5 linked regions of the Homo sapiens genome follow. The protein of the gene in region 4 purifies or fractionates together with the protein of the main gene of each other region. This does not show direct contact. Each region holds a gene or a part of one and is shown on either strand. Other genes may lie near its edges.

Region 1 (2,900 bases), on a different chromosome or scaffold from region 4:
TTTGTTTCTTGTACATCTGGTGGGTTCCAGGGAAACCTTGTCTTTGGAATCACTATTTCTCTTTAAAAAAAAAAAAAAGTACCAGCAAAACTTTGTTTTATTTTTTTCCTTCAACTTTCCATGGATGGTAATTTTCCATTAAGTCCTGACCTTCCAAGGCTGCGTCTTTTCAGTGTCCTGGACACACTCTGAGGGAGAAGTGAGCTTTCCTGGGATTTGATCTGTTGGCCAGATTTACTATGTTTCATGTAATGAAAAGTATTTAACTGCCTTTTTCAAATCACATGCTTCCTATGGAAAGAATATAAATGGGAAAATAATTTCCATTCCCTTTTCTTCTTGCATCAGAAGGAGATCCCTGGAAGTCAGTTGCTCAGGGAGTGTCTGTCACGTAGTTACTTCCCAGCAACTGTGCTGGACACAGATCCTTGTGTCCATTATGCAAGAGGCCCTTCTCCTTTCTCTTTGAAAGATCTTCCTACTTGAATCTTCCACTCTTGCCTTTAACTTTGCTTAGGTGAAGCTTTCCTATACTTCATTTTTCTTGCACTTTTTTCTCTTTTTTGACCGTGTATCTTTTTTCACTACTATATAAATTTCAATTTTTTTTTTTTTAAATCTTGCTCTGTCCCCCAGGCTGGAGTGCAGTGGCACTATCACGGCTCACTGCAGCTTCAAACTCCTGGGCTCAAGCGATCCTCTTGCCTCAGCCTCCTGAGTAGCTGGAACTATAGATGTGAGCCACTAAGCCTGACCCAATTTCAAAAAATCTTCACTCACCAGTTACCTTACTCTCTCATCTACTTAAAGTCTCAAATTTTCTGAGATATCTCTTTCCTTTAAAAGGCAGGATGTTTGAGAGGGGATTTATTCTTTCCGGACTTTATTGTTAGATAGCTGCCCTTCTGCTCTAGTCCAAATTCAATATGGAAACAGTCAGCCATAAAGGGAGAATGATTAAAATACCCTGAACTGGTCCTTGGTCATTTTAAAATTTTCCACCCTGTGGAGGTAGTATTACTCATTTGGGTTACACTTGTTTTAAACAACAGGAATGGCTAGTTAGGACAACAGAGGCAGGTTTTTCACTTAGGAATTCACTGGATGTGTACCATGTGGTCAAGCATGTTGTGGGCTCTAGGGATACATAGGTAAATAGGGCATAGTCTTTGCCATCAGAGGTGCCAAGGGACGTCTGATGACTGGTTAGAGGTTGTACCTGGTATCCTCCTAAGTTCTCTGTTAGATGGGGCCTGTTCTCAAGGAAGAGGAAATACTTCAATTATATATAACTCCTAGAGAAGAAGAACTTAATTTAAAACTTAGTGACATAGTGCTTTATTTTTCATGTTGTGGAAATGTGAATGTGATTGAACCTCTAACAGAGATGTTTGTGTTGCAGGTCAAAGTTGCTCAGCGGAGCCCAGTAGATTCAGGCACCATCCTCCGAGAACCCACCACGAAATCCGTCCCAGTCAATAATCTTCCTGAGAGAAGTCCGACTGACAGCCCCAGAGAGGGCCTGAGGGTCAAGCGAGGCCGACTTGTCCCCAGCCCCAAAGCTGGACTGGAGTCCAACGGCAGTGAGAACTGTAAGGTCCAGTGAAGGCACTTTGTGTGTCAGTACCCCTGGGAGGTGCCAGTCATTGAATAGATAAGGCTGTGCCTACAGGACTTCTCTTTAGTCAGGGCATGCTTTATTAGTGAGGAGAAAACAATTCCTTAGAAGTCTTAAATATATTGTACTCTTTAGATCTCCCATGTGTAGGTATTGAAAAAGTTTGGAAGCACTGATCACCTGTTAGCATTGCCATTCCTCTACTGCAATGTAAATAGTATAAAGCTATGTATATAAAGCTTTTTGGTAATATGTTACAATTAAAATGACAAGCACTATATCACAATCTCTGTTTGTATGTGGGTTTTACACTAAAAAAATGCAAAACACATTTTATTCTTCTAATTAACAGCTCCTAGGAAAATGTAGACTTTTGCTTTATGATATTCTATCTGTAGTATGAGGCATGGAATAGTTTTGTATCGGGAATTTCTCAGAGCTGAGTAAAATGAAGGAAAAGCATGTTATGTGTTTTTAAGGAAAATGTGCACACATATACATGTAGGAGTGTTTATCTTTCTCTTACAATCTGTTTTAGACATCTTTGCTTATGAAACCTGTACATATGTGTGTGTGGGTATGTGTTTATTTCCAGTGAGGGCTGCAGGCTTCCTAGAGGTGTGCTATACCATGCGTCTGTCGTTGTGCTTTTTTCTGTTTTTAGACCAATTTTTTACAGTTCTTTGGTAAGCATTGTCGTATCTGGTGATGGATTAACATATAGCCTTTGTTTTCTAATAAAATAGTCGCCTTCGTTTTCTGTAAGAATGATTCCTAAGTGTAAAGGCATTCGAATATTGGTACTATTTCTTGCTAATTACAACAGCCTCTTATACACGTGAAAATGTTTGAACAAATGATACAGATCTTTAAACAAATGATCTTAGCATCTTTAGTTGTATTAAAAGACACAATTTGGAATACGGGTCATAAGGAGTATATGGGAATATAAGACGTCCAGCCCAGTGCCTCCTACATTCTGTGTCCCCATTAAACCACATCATCAAGGATACAAGTATGTGGTATTTCCCAGCTCACTTGATGATGATATAGTTTTGAAAGCATGCAGGCATTATAAGCCATGTCAGATCCAAAAACATTTGAACAAGTTCTTACATCCTTGAATCAGGGTAAAAAAGTTTCCCAGGGCATGCGCTAGTAAAAGATCATTTGTTCTTGGCTTTCAGTCCAAATTGATGCACAAATTCCGATAAGCACCATCATTTATATTTAAAAGTTGTCCTTCGCAAGGTGGCCTCTGTTGTTGGATAATGCTTCAATA
Region 2 (3,079 bases), on a different chromosome or scaffold from region 4:
AAGGAGTCACTGACAAGTTTTTACCAAGAAGAGATTCAGGTGAGTTGCCCTGAGCCAGCTCCAATTAGCTGCTCAGATTTCCATCACTAGCTTGCCTGAAGTAAAGAGATTTTATAAACTACTCCAGTAAGGGCAGGAATATATAACTCCCTTTTCTCTATTCCCCATAGTGCTTTGGGTTCAATCTATGTTTGGTGAATTGATTAAGGGTTTAGTTGGCCAGGAAATCGTATTAAGTGCTAACAACAGGTTTTCAAGGGATCAGTGTCACAAGTGCTTTGTTTGTTCAGTCATCTGTCTTAGCAATATTTTTCTGGCTCTGCAAAGAATTGTGCTCTCTGCTTCCCTCTTAGGAGCGGGATGAAAAGATTGAAGAGCTAGAAGCTCTCTTGCAGGAAGCCAGACAACAGTCAGTGGCCCATCAGCAATCAGGGTCTGAATTGGCCCTACGGCGGTCACAAAGGTTGGCAGCTTCTGCCTCCACCCAGCAGCTTCAGGAGGTTAAAGCTAAATTACAGCAGTGCAAAGCAGAGCTAAACTCTACCACTGAAGGTGAGGAAAGAGACAGGCAGGAAACATAACAGTGGTTCAGGGAAGAGCTGTTACTTAAACCCAGGCCTTCTAACTCCTGCTCTAACATAATTTCCTAAACTGCAAGCTACATCCCCCTGACATTTCAATCTAGGATACACATAGCCTCACTTTTTATATTTGCTGCAAGCTACTGTTACCTCAGTTAAAGAGGTTAGTCCAAGGCTAAAAAAACCCCACATATTTTAAGTTTCCTGTTTCCTTCCCTCAGAGTTGCATAAGTATCAGAAAATGTTAGAACCACCACCCTCAGCCAAGCCCTTCACCATTGATGTGGACAAGAAGTTAGAAGAGGGCCAGAAGGTAATTACCACCATTCTCTGTTTACCAAACTCTTACCTAAGGCAATTTCCCACATCCAACACTCTATCACTGGTTCATGTGAAGACAAGATGTTTTTTGTGCACAGTTCTGGAGAGTGGCTATTTCACTCAGCTGACTAGCCTTTCTAATTTTACTTCTCTTCAAATGGCTACCTGACCCCTCCAGATCATTATCCTGGTTGCTCTTGGCCACAATATGATTCCTACTTCCCCTTTTTCAGAATATAAGGCTGTTGCGGACAGAGCTTCAGAAACTTGGTGAGTCTCTCCAATCAGCAGAGAGAGCTTGTTGCCACAGCACTGGGGCAGGAAAACTTCGTCAAGCCTTGACCACTTGTGATGACATCTTAATCAAACAGGTTAGGGCAAACTATATACCCACTTCTGTCCTACCAGCCCACTCCAGTGTATATGTGAGAAAGGAAAGAGGACCAGAAGAAAAAGGTAAAGATTTTTAGGCTGAATTTATAGTGAGAGCAGTATATTTGCAAAATAAAAATAACTATTCTTTGTTAAGCATTTACTAAGTACCAGGCACTGTGCTAAGTAATTTATAGGCATTTTCTGTCACAACCACCTTAGGGAGGTAGTTACTGTCATATTTCATCTAAGATGCTACTGATTATAAGAAACCATTATTTTATGTACTACTAAGAAAAAAGTAACAATTTCTCATCAGTAAGATGCATCCTGATTCCAAAGAGATTAAAATGTTAAAATTGTGTATCTTAAACTAAACTCAACATTTAATTTGACATTTAGAGACTGAGGCACTTAGAAATTAAATTTACTCAAGCTCATACTACCTTATGTGTTAGAAGATGTCCTATTCAGCACTGCTTATGTTTTGTTCTCAGAAAATGTCCCCTTATTCAGTTATAAGCTCCGACCTTAAAGAGTTTTAATCTTTGAAGAAACAGTTGTTAGTAACTAGTAATGGATGGTATGTATTACCCTTAGCCCTCTCGTTTCTCTAATATACCAGACAAAAGTGTTTTCTATAACTTTATTGATCTTCCTTAGGACCAGACTCTGGCTGAACTGCAGAACAACATGGTGCTAGTGAAACTGGACCTTCGGAAGAAGGCAGCATGTATTGCTGAGCAGTATCATACTGTGTTGAAACTCCAAGGCCAGGTTTCTGCCAAAAAGCGCCTTGGTACCAACCAGGAAAATCAGCAACCAAACCAACAACCACCAGGGAAGAAACCATTCCTTCGAAATTTACTTCCCCGAACACCAACCTGCCAAAGCTCAACAGACTGCAGCCCTTATGCCCGGATCCTACGCTCACGGCGTTCCCCTTTACTCAAATCTGGGCCTTTTGGCAAAAAGTACTAAGGCTGTGGGGAAAGAGAAGAGCAGTCATGGCCCTGAGGTGGGTCAGCTACTCTCCTGAAGAAATAGGTCTCTTTTATGCTTTACCATATATCAGGAATTATATCCAGGATGCAATACTCAGACACTAGCTTTTTTCTCACTTTTGTATTATAACCACCTATGTAATCTCATGTTGTTGTTTTTTTTTATTTACTTATATGATTTCTATGCACACAAAAACAGTTATATTAAAGATATTATTGTTCACATTTTTTATTGAATTCCAAATGTAGCAAAATCATTAAAACAAATTATAAAAGGGACAGAAAAATTAAGAATCAAACATCATTCTGGACCATGGGAACCTTGAAAAGGCATGGCAGTGGAGACCAGTAACTAGTATACAGCTTGCCTGAGAAGGCTTAGTAACAAATGAATTCAAGTCGTATTAGATATTCTAAACCTTCCTTAATATAAGATGAAGTGTCATATGTTAGGAGGTAAAAACGTAACACAAAATTCTGGGAATAAGAATAAAGTCTGGACCCTGAGCTCAGAATGATCCATAGCATCTACTGTGCAAATATATTACAGCAGACATTATAGCATATTACCTCCTGCTGTACACACATGCACAGGCCTGAAACTCTCCAAGAGCACCATAAGAATGATTCCCTTTACCTCATCTAGATAAAGGCTGAAAAAAATGTATTCTGTTGCAGATGGGAGGGAAAAAAATAGACAATTACGTTGAAAATTTATTAAAACAGACCAGCTTGAAGTGAGTTTATTCTTGTCTGTATAATCACCAATGTTATTTCCAAATGTCCGTGAAATTATCTATA
Region 3 (2,940 bases), on a different chromosome or scaffold from region 4:
ATACCATGCATTGGAAGGACACAGGCCATTTTAGATGGGGTACACATGTCCCTTCCCAGGGTCCACTCAGAACTTTCCTCTTGGACTCTCTAGAAGGTCCTGCTGTCCTATACCTGGCCACCCCCTGCCTTGGGGGGCACATGTCTTCGTTCCCTCCCGACTGGGAATGTCAGGCTCCTGCAGGCCAGCTGCATGCTCTCCAGGAGCACCAACTGGGAAATCCCCTGACAGGTAAAGTCCTTTAAAATGATACTTTTACCTACCTAACTCTGGGGGCCAAATGCTTAAGAGGGAAAGGAAACAGTCGAATGCAAACAGTGTGTCATACCAGAGTCCTGGAAAATTTATTGAATCACACAGGGTAGTCATAGAACCCCTGTGGGATGGCTTAATATTTTGCTACTTTAAAATGCAGAGATAACAGAAACAATCTGGATTTTCTTCATTCAGCTGATAAGAACTTCAGTTCCAGTGGCTGTATGACATAATTTTGCCTGTACCCAGGAGCATTTTTTAAAATACAGGATTTTAAAAGCAATGTTAAGTTGCTGATCTAACTAGTAAATTTGCTCCTAAGTGTCATTTACAGATTATTTCTGTTGAAACTGCAAACAGATTTAGAAAGGCACAGGGACTGAATGACTCTCTGTCTTACACAGCTACTCATGCACACACGCACTGCTTACTAAAAGCTGAAGTGAGATGAAGGGGGCCTACACGAATAACAAGTTCAACTTCTTTGTGCCTGGAAAGGAGGGACTGGAGCAGCCAGGAGACTCACTTTCCCCCCTCGCTTGGGCCCTTCTCTATGCCTTAGTCTCTCCAGCACATGCACACAGCATGCACACACACGCACCCTACCCAAAGACAGCTGTGGCCCTCTCCCACCACCTCCCCCTTCCCACCGCTGGTTGTTGGGGGCTGGAGGCGGGAGGTCCCATGGAATTTGTTCTGGTTTCTAGGATGTAAACGAGGACTCCAAGCCATGAATTGCCCTGCTTTCTAGAGGGTGGAATGTTGACCCTGCAACTTTAGAAGCACAATCATTTATTAATAATTTTTTTGAAACTCCCATCTACCCCTGTTAGAGAAATCAACAGGTTCTAGGAATTAAATATGTCTCTTTGTAACCCAGAGCATGTTCAATTTTTGGAAACCGTATTTCAGTGATTTTCTTAATACCTTACATGTGTAGGGCATCTTCCCCCAGAATCTTACAGTCCCTTTCTGTGAAGAGAAGTGGACACACGTGGGAACTCTCACCATCTCTGGACTGTCGTCAGGAAACGCCTGCAGGTCCTTGCCCTGTCTGTATGGTGTCCTCACTTCTCCATCCATACAGGTGGCTCCAGTGGGCATTTTTTTATTTTAAATTTTTTACATGAAGCAATAGAAGTACAAAATACTTATTTTTTCAAAATTTAATGTGTTCCATGAAACCTGTTGGCAGTCGCTTTCCTTCCCCCACATCTAAATTCTTTGGTTTTTAGTTGTTTGTTTTTTGGATTTTTTTTTTTTTTTTTTTGGCCTTGTATCCCAAGGACTAAAAGATTAGCACAGACACGTTTTGATGTTGAATGAACTAGTAAGTCACAGTAGGTGGTAGTCTTCATTGATTTCTCTGTAAGTTTTTAAAGAATGTATGAAGATAGTCACGAATGTACTGAGTGTTCGCATCCCCCTTCAGTTCACCTTGGCTGTGTCTACAGGACAACAAATGTTTGACAGGGAATAAAGTCGTGTCTGGTGTCATTTGCGCTAGCGTGCCCCTCCCCTTTCGGTGTTGGCTCCAAACCTTCCTTTCCTTTTATGTTTGTGGGGAGTGGGGAACCACATCAGCAGCAATCATCAACCAACCAACCAATGGGATCTACTTAGTGGTGAATAGATTGGCTATTTAATTGGTAAAAGTTGCTGGTCTGACCACACCACAGCATGACCACTGGGTTCATTTAGAGATGGCCTCCGTTTCCAACGTTCCCCACAAATGTTTGCTTCTTTCCCAGTCAAGAGGGGATCTCGAGACTCCCGAGTGGAGGTCGTGAGCTTGCACCCCGCCTGGCTGTGTAGATCGACTGTATAGATACATGAAGTGGGGGTGAGGGCCAAGGGGCTATTACTGCTGTTGGGAAATACTTGCCTCTCGTAGATCCAGCCTTAATGTTTTTCTGACATCCTAGTAATAGCAGACCCTGCACAAAGTGGATATCAGACTTAATACTGTGAGGAGACAAAATAATGAGAATAGTTTTACCAAAGATAATGAAATCTCGCATCATGTCTGCATTTTACCATAGATTGGAGTGCATCCTTAGGAAACTGAATGTAACAAAAACCCAGGACATTTTTGGAAATTGTATGCTCTCTAGCAACTTTGTGTGAATTTTTATACAAACACTGTTTTATGAGTTATATAAAATGTTATAAAAATAGAAAAACATGGTCTCGTAACATGTTATTTTCTTAGAGCACTGGTCTCTCAGAATATGTCTTGGTCTATTTGTCTTTGTGCGTGGCCTCCTCACCCACCTCCCAGGGAAGAACGTGAATATTCCGGGGGATTTCAGCTTCTGGGGCTTCCATACTCTACGTGTCAGGGGTACAGCTCATAGGATTTCAGTTTGGCCACAGCTGAATGAATGAGAAATTGCCAGATAAATCCTCCAAACCATTTCTCCACAAACCACTTCCTGGCCATGTAGTGGGAGGCTTGTTTGACCTTTTTTAACCTTTCCTGGTCAGGTGCCAGGCCAGTCCTGCAAAGCCAGCAGAGTTTCATTTTCATTTAACCGCCTTTTTTTTTTTCACTTTGGATCAAATGGGTTTTAGTTTCCCGCCGCCCCAACCCTGCTAGAGTGCAGTGGTATAATCATGGCTCACTGCAGCCTCGACTTCCTGGGCTCAAGTGATCTTCCTGCCACAGACTCCTAAGTAGCTGGG
Region 4 (3,523 bases):
AGGCAGGAGAATCACTTGAACCCAGGAAGCGAGGTTGCAGAGAGCAGAGATCGCACCACTGCACTCCAGCCTGGGTGACAGAGCAAGACTCTGTCTCAAAAAAACCAAAACAAAAACAAAAATGAGCCAGACATAGAGGTATATGCCTATAGTCCCAGCTCCTTGGAGGGGTTGAGGTGGGAGGATTGCTTGAACCTGGGAGGTCAAGGCTGCAGTGAGCTGAGATCGTGCCACTGTACTCCAGCCTGGGTGACAAAGTGAGACTCTGTCTCAAAAAAAAAAAAAAAAAAAAAGTATAAGGGAGGATGTGCATAGGTTACACGCAAATACTATACCATTTTATATCAGGGACTTGGGCATCCTTGATTTTTGGTGTTCTTGAGAGGTGCTGGAACAAATCCCCCATGGATACCAAGGAACGACTGTACTTGCCTATTACAGTAGATATTCTCCAAAAGGGCCACTAACAATTTCTCATTTCCCAGTAGGTGCATGCTGCCCTCACATCAACAGGTGGAGTCTATTTCCTCTCCCCTTGAATCTAGGCTGGCCTTGGGACTTGCTTTGACCACTGAACACAGCAAAAATGACATTCTGGGACTTCTATGTGCAGGCCTTAAGAGAACTGGCAACTTCTGCTTCCTTATTCAAAGCACAGCAGCCACGCTGTTAGAAAGTCCAGGACAGACTCTCTGTGATTAGGTACCTGGACAATGAGAGACCATCTTGGACATTTCGAGCCCAACTGAGCTCCCAGCAGACCAGCAGACTGTACCAGCATGAGGGACTCCAGGTGACCCCAAATGGAGCAGCAGAACTTCTCCAATAAGCCCAGGCAACCCCCAGAACTATGAGGGTTGGCACATAAGTGCTCAACAATTAGCGGCCATTACTGTCTGGGAAGCTAAAATGAACATGTGCAGTATATAACTGCAGACCGCTGTGTACATTACATTCAGGTTCTGAGCGCTTTGCAGGCCCTGTGGAGTGGGAATGTACAGGAGGTGAAAAGGCAAGGCTTCAGGGTAAAAGCGCGTCTTAGACCTGAAGGACAGAGTATGCAGAATATTGGTTTCTAAACCTCTAATGCATGAAGACCCACCCACAGACTTCTAGGCAATTGCAACGCGTGTCTGCACCAAAGGCTGAAGACTGTCCCGGCAGAAGTCTCGTGGTCTCTATATAGACAGATGGGTAGTTGTGAGGCCGGGGGAATGAAGAATGTCAGTGAGTATGGGGATTCTTTGTGGGGTGGTGAACATGTTCTAAAATTGATTGTGGTGATGGCTGCACAACTCTGTGAATATACTAAAAACCATCGAATTGTGCATTTTAAATGGGTGGACTATATGGCATATGAATTTTATACAGATGATAAAGCTGTTTATTTTTATTTTTGAGTCAGGCTCTCACTTTGTCACCCAGGCTGGAGTGCAGTGGCACAATCTCAGTTCACTGCAGCCTCGACCTCATGGGCTTAAGCAATCTTCCCGCCTCAGCCCCTAAAGTAGCTGGGACTACAGGTACGTGCCATCACGCCCAGCTAATTTTTCGTATTTTTTGTGGAGACAGGGTTTTGCCATGTTGCCCAGGCTGGTCTTGAACTCCTGAGTGCAAGCGATCTGTGGGCCTCAGCCTCCTGAAGTGCTAGGATTACAGGTGTGAACCACCACGACCAGCCATAAAGCTGTTATTACAGAAACACAGAGGGTGGGACGGATGAAGCGGGTGAGATGACAAAGGAGCAAGGAACATTCCAAAGGGTTGCCTGGGGGCTACAAGGCACCAACCTATTTGGCACTGAGAGGAAAAGCCAAGTCTTTTTAGGTGGTGAACGAACCCAGCACTGGTCAGAAGCTAGGAGCCCTGGGGACAGACCCTGTCATTCCAAGGATCTCAGGCATTTGGCATCACTGCTGTTGCCTCAAATGCTTTGCATGCATGCGGCTCACTCATACCTGTTTTCCTTTCGCTTAAATGACAACCCAAACTCTGCTAGTCACAAGGCTTTTAAAAACAGAAAAAGTTCCTAGGCAAGAGGAAAACAAATGCTTCCCAACAGAAAAGCAGATGGGGGCTTGCATTCAGACTGACCTCAGAGGCAGACGAGGCGGGATCCCAAGGCCTAGTCAGACCCAGAGCCTCAGATGCCAAGACGGTAAACTCCATATTTAAATGCGGCCGACTCAGATGTGAGGTGGACAGTGGACACTCCCTCCCTAAGGGCGGCTGCCCTCTACTACCCCCTCTTCCTTCTTCTGGTGAAATTCCTTTCAAAAGGGACCGGAGGGCAGGGCCATGGGAAGTTTTCAAATCTTGGAACTGCCGCCTGAGCCAACTTAGCACATGAACAGCCCCCTAAAACCAGGCAGTATCATTGTATCACCAGCCAATATATCTCATCAAATCCTCTCAACAAGACCCACCAGGATATTTACCAACAGCCCCCAGAAATCTCCATCTCTCGCCTGCCCAAATCAACCTTGTGAATCCTTCTGTTTTGTAAGGCAATCAATGTAATTACAAGAAGACAAAGTGTTCTTTTAAAACACTAGCCACTGCAGAAGATGGGGCACCTGAGAGGAAAACATCCTTTCATGTTGGAGAGGAAGCAGGTTAGAAATGACAGACTTTGAGCAGCTATGTCACCATGGCTAGGATATGAGAAGAGAAATCACAAAGACTTTCAGCAGTTTGTCCTGAAGGTCCTGCTAAGTCTAAGTCCTATGCTGCCATCAGTAAAAAAAGCCAGGAGCCACAAACCAAATACAACTTTGTAGGAAGTTTGTGGTCCTTCCTACTACCAAAGAGACTCTAGAGGCACAAACTCAACTTGTTCTCTTGTTCTTCTTGATCTGAACACTTTTTTTTTTAAGATCGGAGTCTCACTCTGTCGCCCGGGGTGGAGTGCAGTGGCTCAATCTCTGCTCACTGCAACCTCCGCCTCCCGGGTTCAAGCAATTCCCTGCCTCAGCCTCCCGAGTAGCTGGGATTACAGGTGCCTGCCACCATACCTGGCTAATTTTTGTATTTTTAGTAGAGACAGGGTTTCACCATCTTGGCCGGCCTGGTCTTGAACTCCTGACCTCGTGATCCGCCCGCCTCGGCCTCCCAAAGTGCTGGGATTACAGGCGTGAGCCACCACGCCCAGCGATCTGAACAGTTTTAGGATTAAAGCGTTCAAGAATGGTTTTAAACACAACTTTGAAAAAGGATGAAGAACTCCGATTTCTTGGGGACCCAATGCCTTTGCTACTCGGGCCCACTCTACTTTTTTTTTTATTTTACAATTTTTAATTTTTGTGGCTACATAGTAGGTAGTAGGTGCATATATTTCTGGGGTACATGAGATGTTTTGGTACAGGCATGCAATATGAAATAATCATATCATGCAAAACAGGTTAGCCATCCCCCTCAAGCATTTATCCTTTGTGTTACAAACAATCCAGTCATACTAGTAGTTATTTTTAAATGAACAATTAAATTATTATTGACTATAATTACCCTGTTGTGCTATCAAATA
Region 5 (3,523 bases), on a different chromosome or scaffold from region 4:
CTCAGCACTTTGGGAGGCTGAGATGGTGGCACATGCCTGTAATCCCAGCTACTTGGGAGGCTGAGGCAGGAGAATCGCTTGAACCTGGGAGGCGGAGGTTGCAGTGAGCCAAGATCGTGCCACTGCATTCCAGCCTGGGTGACAGAGCGAGACTCCATCTCAAACAAAAATAAAATAAATAAAAATGAGATTATAGCTGTATGTACTAATTTTTAAAATAGGTTAGCTGAAGAAAACCAGGAGTAGAATAGTGTATATAGTGTATTACCACGAAAATAAAGGAAAAAAGAGGATCTACATATATCCGTGTGTGTGCCTCTGTATGAATAAACTCTCTAGAAGAGCATACAAGCTTAGGTGGTTGCCTCTTAGAAGGGGAATTAGAAGGAGAGAGATTTCACTGTATACCTTTTGCAGTGTTTGAATTTTTTCATTACTCCACATGAAATGAATAAATTTCAGTGCATGTATATGTATATATATATTTATATATATATGGATGGATAGTAAAATGGTGAAATATTTCATTCACGTAAACATTTGTGATTAAGCTTAAAACAATTAGGATCTTCAAAACAAGTCCTTTTCATTTGAACTGTATAAATATGTTCCAAAATTTTATAGTAGTATTTTTTTTTTCATAGCATTTGATTTTATTTGTACGAAATGGATGAAATCCTTGCTATCTCTTAGGGTGGGATCTGCTTTTTCAACTCTGATTTCTAGTGCCTGGCATCTAGTTAGAGCTCAATAAATTTTTATTATACTGAATTATCCTTCATTTTCCTAACTAAGCATCTTTTATCAAGACATAATCATTCCTTTCAGTTCCCGGATTAGCATTAATTACTGGCATTTGCCATACATTGCATTTTTCTATTCCAAATTAGTATTAATGATTTTATGAAGAAGTAGCTGTCCCAAATAAATAAATTTCTTCTTTGTATTTTTAATCATTGAGATTATATCATTATGTTATCACTGAGAAGTAATTTAATTCTATTATATATGCAGACTTTCTAAAGAAGATAAAGCTTTTTTATGGGAGAAACGTTATTATTGCTTCAAACACCCAAATTGTCTTCCTAAAATATTAGCAAGCGCCCCAAACTGGAAATGGGTTAATCTTGCCAAAACTTACTCATTGCTTCACCAGTGGCCTGCATTGTACCCACTAATTGCATTGGAACTTCTTGATTCAAAGTAAGTCAAATACATTTATTTGCTCTTGTTTTATTGTCAGTTTTTCCAGTAAGGTATGTTGCCAGAAGTATTTCCTTTCCTTTTAACATGAAAGCAATTCAATATAATCCAAATGTGTAAATGTATATTTATACAAACATATCTTCTGCATTGAAGTTGTCAATAAAGCATTGCATGTCCTTTAAAACTAGCCTAAAGGAAGGGTTAGGTTGTAAATTTTGAATAATTTATATTTTTATGATGTGGGCCAGAATTAATTTTCATAAACTTAAGATTCCTAAATAATCCCTAAATTGAATCTGTATAGCACAATAAGATTGTCTTCTTACAAAAAGAAGAAATACATTGCTTTTGAATAAAAGAGATATCTTAGTGTTCTTTGTCAGGACCAGATTGAGATTGTGTTTTCAAAAAATACAGCTTCACTGGAAAGAAATCACTGTCCAATCTTGGTTTTATGGTAATCTTCTAGATTTGCTGATCAGGAAGTAAGATCCCTAGCTGTGACCTGGATTGAGGCCATTAGTGATGATGAGCTAACAGATCTTCTTCCACAGTTTGTACAAGTGAGTTTTTTACTAGATTACCTCCCTTTATACTTTCACTCTAGTTTTTTATGGGAACTTGCTAAGGGATCCCCATTCTGTTTAGATTAAAAGTCGTTTTTTAGTGTGGGAACATTGAGGGGCATTGCATTTGGATTTAGTGTGAATTTTTTCCCCACTATTGTCATCTGCCCCATTTGAATATTGTATATAGGCACCTGTATTTTTAGTTTTCAGACTTTTTAGAACAAACCAGACTTGAGCTTTTCCTTGATTTTTCTTTACTGGTGAGTTCAACATAGCTAATGAATGTTACTCTATACTTTTGTGTTTGATTTAAATTAGTTTGGCATAGGTTAATTCATCTATTTAATTTTTATAAGTATCATCTTTCATCAGTAAGAGTAATACTTGCTTTATATAGTTTCTCTTTTGATAGTTTTATTGGAACAATTTAGTATGGGTTAGACCACTAATAATTCTTATTTTCTTTTACTGTAGGCTTTGAAATATGAAATTTACTTGAATAGTTCATTAGTGCAATTCCTTTTGTCCAGGGCATTGGGAAATATCCAGATAGCACACAATTTATATTGGTAAGATTTAAATTTTATTGATTACCGTATTTCCATTCCTAGAATTTATAGAAATGGCATACCCTGTAAGTCTAAATGGTATGCCACACTACTTATTGTGGATACAAGATATTTTATTGAAGGTATTATTTTAAAGGAGCTAAATTTACCCTCTAATGCAAAAATTTGAAAACCCTCATTGCAAAAATTTGGTGTCTTATAGCTCTGTAATAATGAATGGGTTTCGACTTGCTTATATAGCTTAAAATACATTTCTGGTTATCAAAAATTGAGGCCAAGCGTGGTGGCTCATGCTTGTAATCCCAGCACTTTGGGAGGCTGAAGCTAGTGGATCGCTTGATCTCAGGAGTTTAAGACCAGCCTAACAATCATGGTGAAACCTCATCTCTACCAAAAATATAAAAAATTAGCCGAACATGGTGGCATGTGCCTGTGGTCCCAGCTAGTTGGGATGCTGAGGTGGGAGGATTGCTCGAGCCTGGGAGGTGGAGGTTGCAGTGAGGCAAGGTCATGCCACTGGACTCCAGCCTGGGCAACAGAGCCAGACCTGGTCTCAAAAAAAAAAAAAGAAAAAAAAATTGAACTTGTTATTTTTCAGAGAGGTTCACCTAGTTCTTAGAAGTGACTAACATGGCCGGGCATGGTGGCTCACGCCTGTAATCCCAGCACTTTGGGAGGCCGAAGTGGGCGGATCACAAGGTCAGGAGATCGAGACCATCCTGGCTAACACAGTGAAACCCCATCTCTACTAAAAATACAAAAAATTAGCCGGGTGTGGTGGCGGGCGCCTATAGTCCCAGCTATTCGGGAGGCTGAGGCAGGAGAATGGCGTGAACCCGGGAGGCAGAGCTTGCAGTGAGCCGAGATGGCGCCACTGCACTCCAGCCTGGGTGACGAGTGAGGCTCCGTCTCAAAAAAAAAAAAAAAAAAAAAAAACCAAGACGTGACTAACATAAATATTTTGCTGTATTAGGCTTCTCAAAGATGCCCTGCATGATGTACAGTTTAGTACCCGATACGAACATGTTTTGGGTGCTCTCCTGTCAGTAGGAGGAAAACGACTTAGAGAAGAACTTCTAAAACAGACGAAACTTGTACAGCTTTTAGGAGGAGTAGCAGAAAAAGTAAGGCAGGCTAGTGGATCAGCCAGACAGGTATGTACCCATAAAAGGTAATATA

What was found.
Region 1: the proteins of MAP7D2 (region 4) and CENPF purify together in Homo sapiens (affinity purification with mass spectrometry; one large-scale study listed by BioGRID and IntAct). This does not show direct contact.
Region 2: the proteins of MAP7D2 (region 4) and KIF20A purify together in Homo sapiens (affinity purification with mass spectrometry; 2 studies listed by BioGRID and IntAct, with this or other methods). This does not show direct contact.
Region 3: the proteins of MAP7D2 (region 4) and BEND3 purify together in Homo sapiens (affinity purification with mass spectrometry; 2 studies listed by BioGRID and IntAct, with this or other methods). This does not show direct contact.
Region 5: the proteins of MAP7D2 (region 4) and PIK3C2A purify together in Homo sapiens (affinity purification with mass spectrometry; one large-scale study listed by BioGRID and IntAct). This does not show direct contact.

What each region holds. Positions count from the first base shown.
Region 1 is NC_000001.11:214,662,189-214,665,088, forward strand, and holds the end of CENPF (centromere protein F), read left to right. Parts: intron 1-1,402; coding exon 1,403-1,606; 3' UTR 1,607-2,383; downstream 2,384-2,900. UniProt on the Homo sapiens protein: Required for kinetochore function and chromosome segregation in mitosis. Required for kinetochore localization of dynein, LIS1, NDE1 and NDEL1.
Region 2 is NC_000005.10:138,185,159-138,188,237, forward strand, and holds the end of KIF20A (kinesin-like protein KIF20A), read left to right. Parts: coding exon 1-39; intron 40-353; coding exon 354-552; intron 553-802; coding exon 803-894; intron 895-1,135; coding exon 1,136-1,273; intron 1,274-1,937; coding exon 1,938-2,255; 3' UTR 2,256-2,565; downstream 2,566-3,079. UniProt on the Homo sapiens protein: Mitotic kinesin required for chromosome passenger complex (CPC)-mediated cytokinesis. Following phosphorylation by PLK1, involved in recruitment of PLK1 to the central spindle. Interacts with guanosine triphosphate (GTP)-bound forms of RAB6A and RAB6B.
Region 3 is NC_000006.12:107,064,680-107,067,619, reverse strand, and holds the end of BEND3 (BEN domain-containing protein 3), read left to right. Parts: 3' UTR 1-2,438; downstream 2,439-2,940. UniProt on the Homo sapiens protein: Transcriptional repressor which associates with the NoRC (nucleolar remodeling complex) complex and plays a key role in repressing rDNA transcription.
Region 4 is NC_000023.11:20,110,391-20,113,913, forward strand, and holds part of MAP7D2 (MAP7 domain-containing protein 2), read right to left. Parts: intron 1-3,523. UniProt on the Homo sapiens protein: Microtubule-stabilizing protein that plays a role in the control of cell motility and neurite outgrowth via direct binding to the microtubule. Acts as a critical cofactor for kinesin transport.
Region 5 is NC_000011.10:17,117,466-17,120,988, reverse strand, and holds part of PIK3C2A (phosphatidylinositol 4-phosphate 3-kinase C2 domain-containing subunit alpha), read left to right. Parts: intron 1-1,014; coding exon 1,015-1,203; intron 1,204-1,675; coding exon 1,676-1,769; intron 1,770-2,249; coding exon 2,250-2,344; intron 2,345-3,317; coding exon 3,318-3,498; intron 3,499-3,523.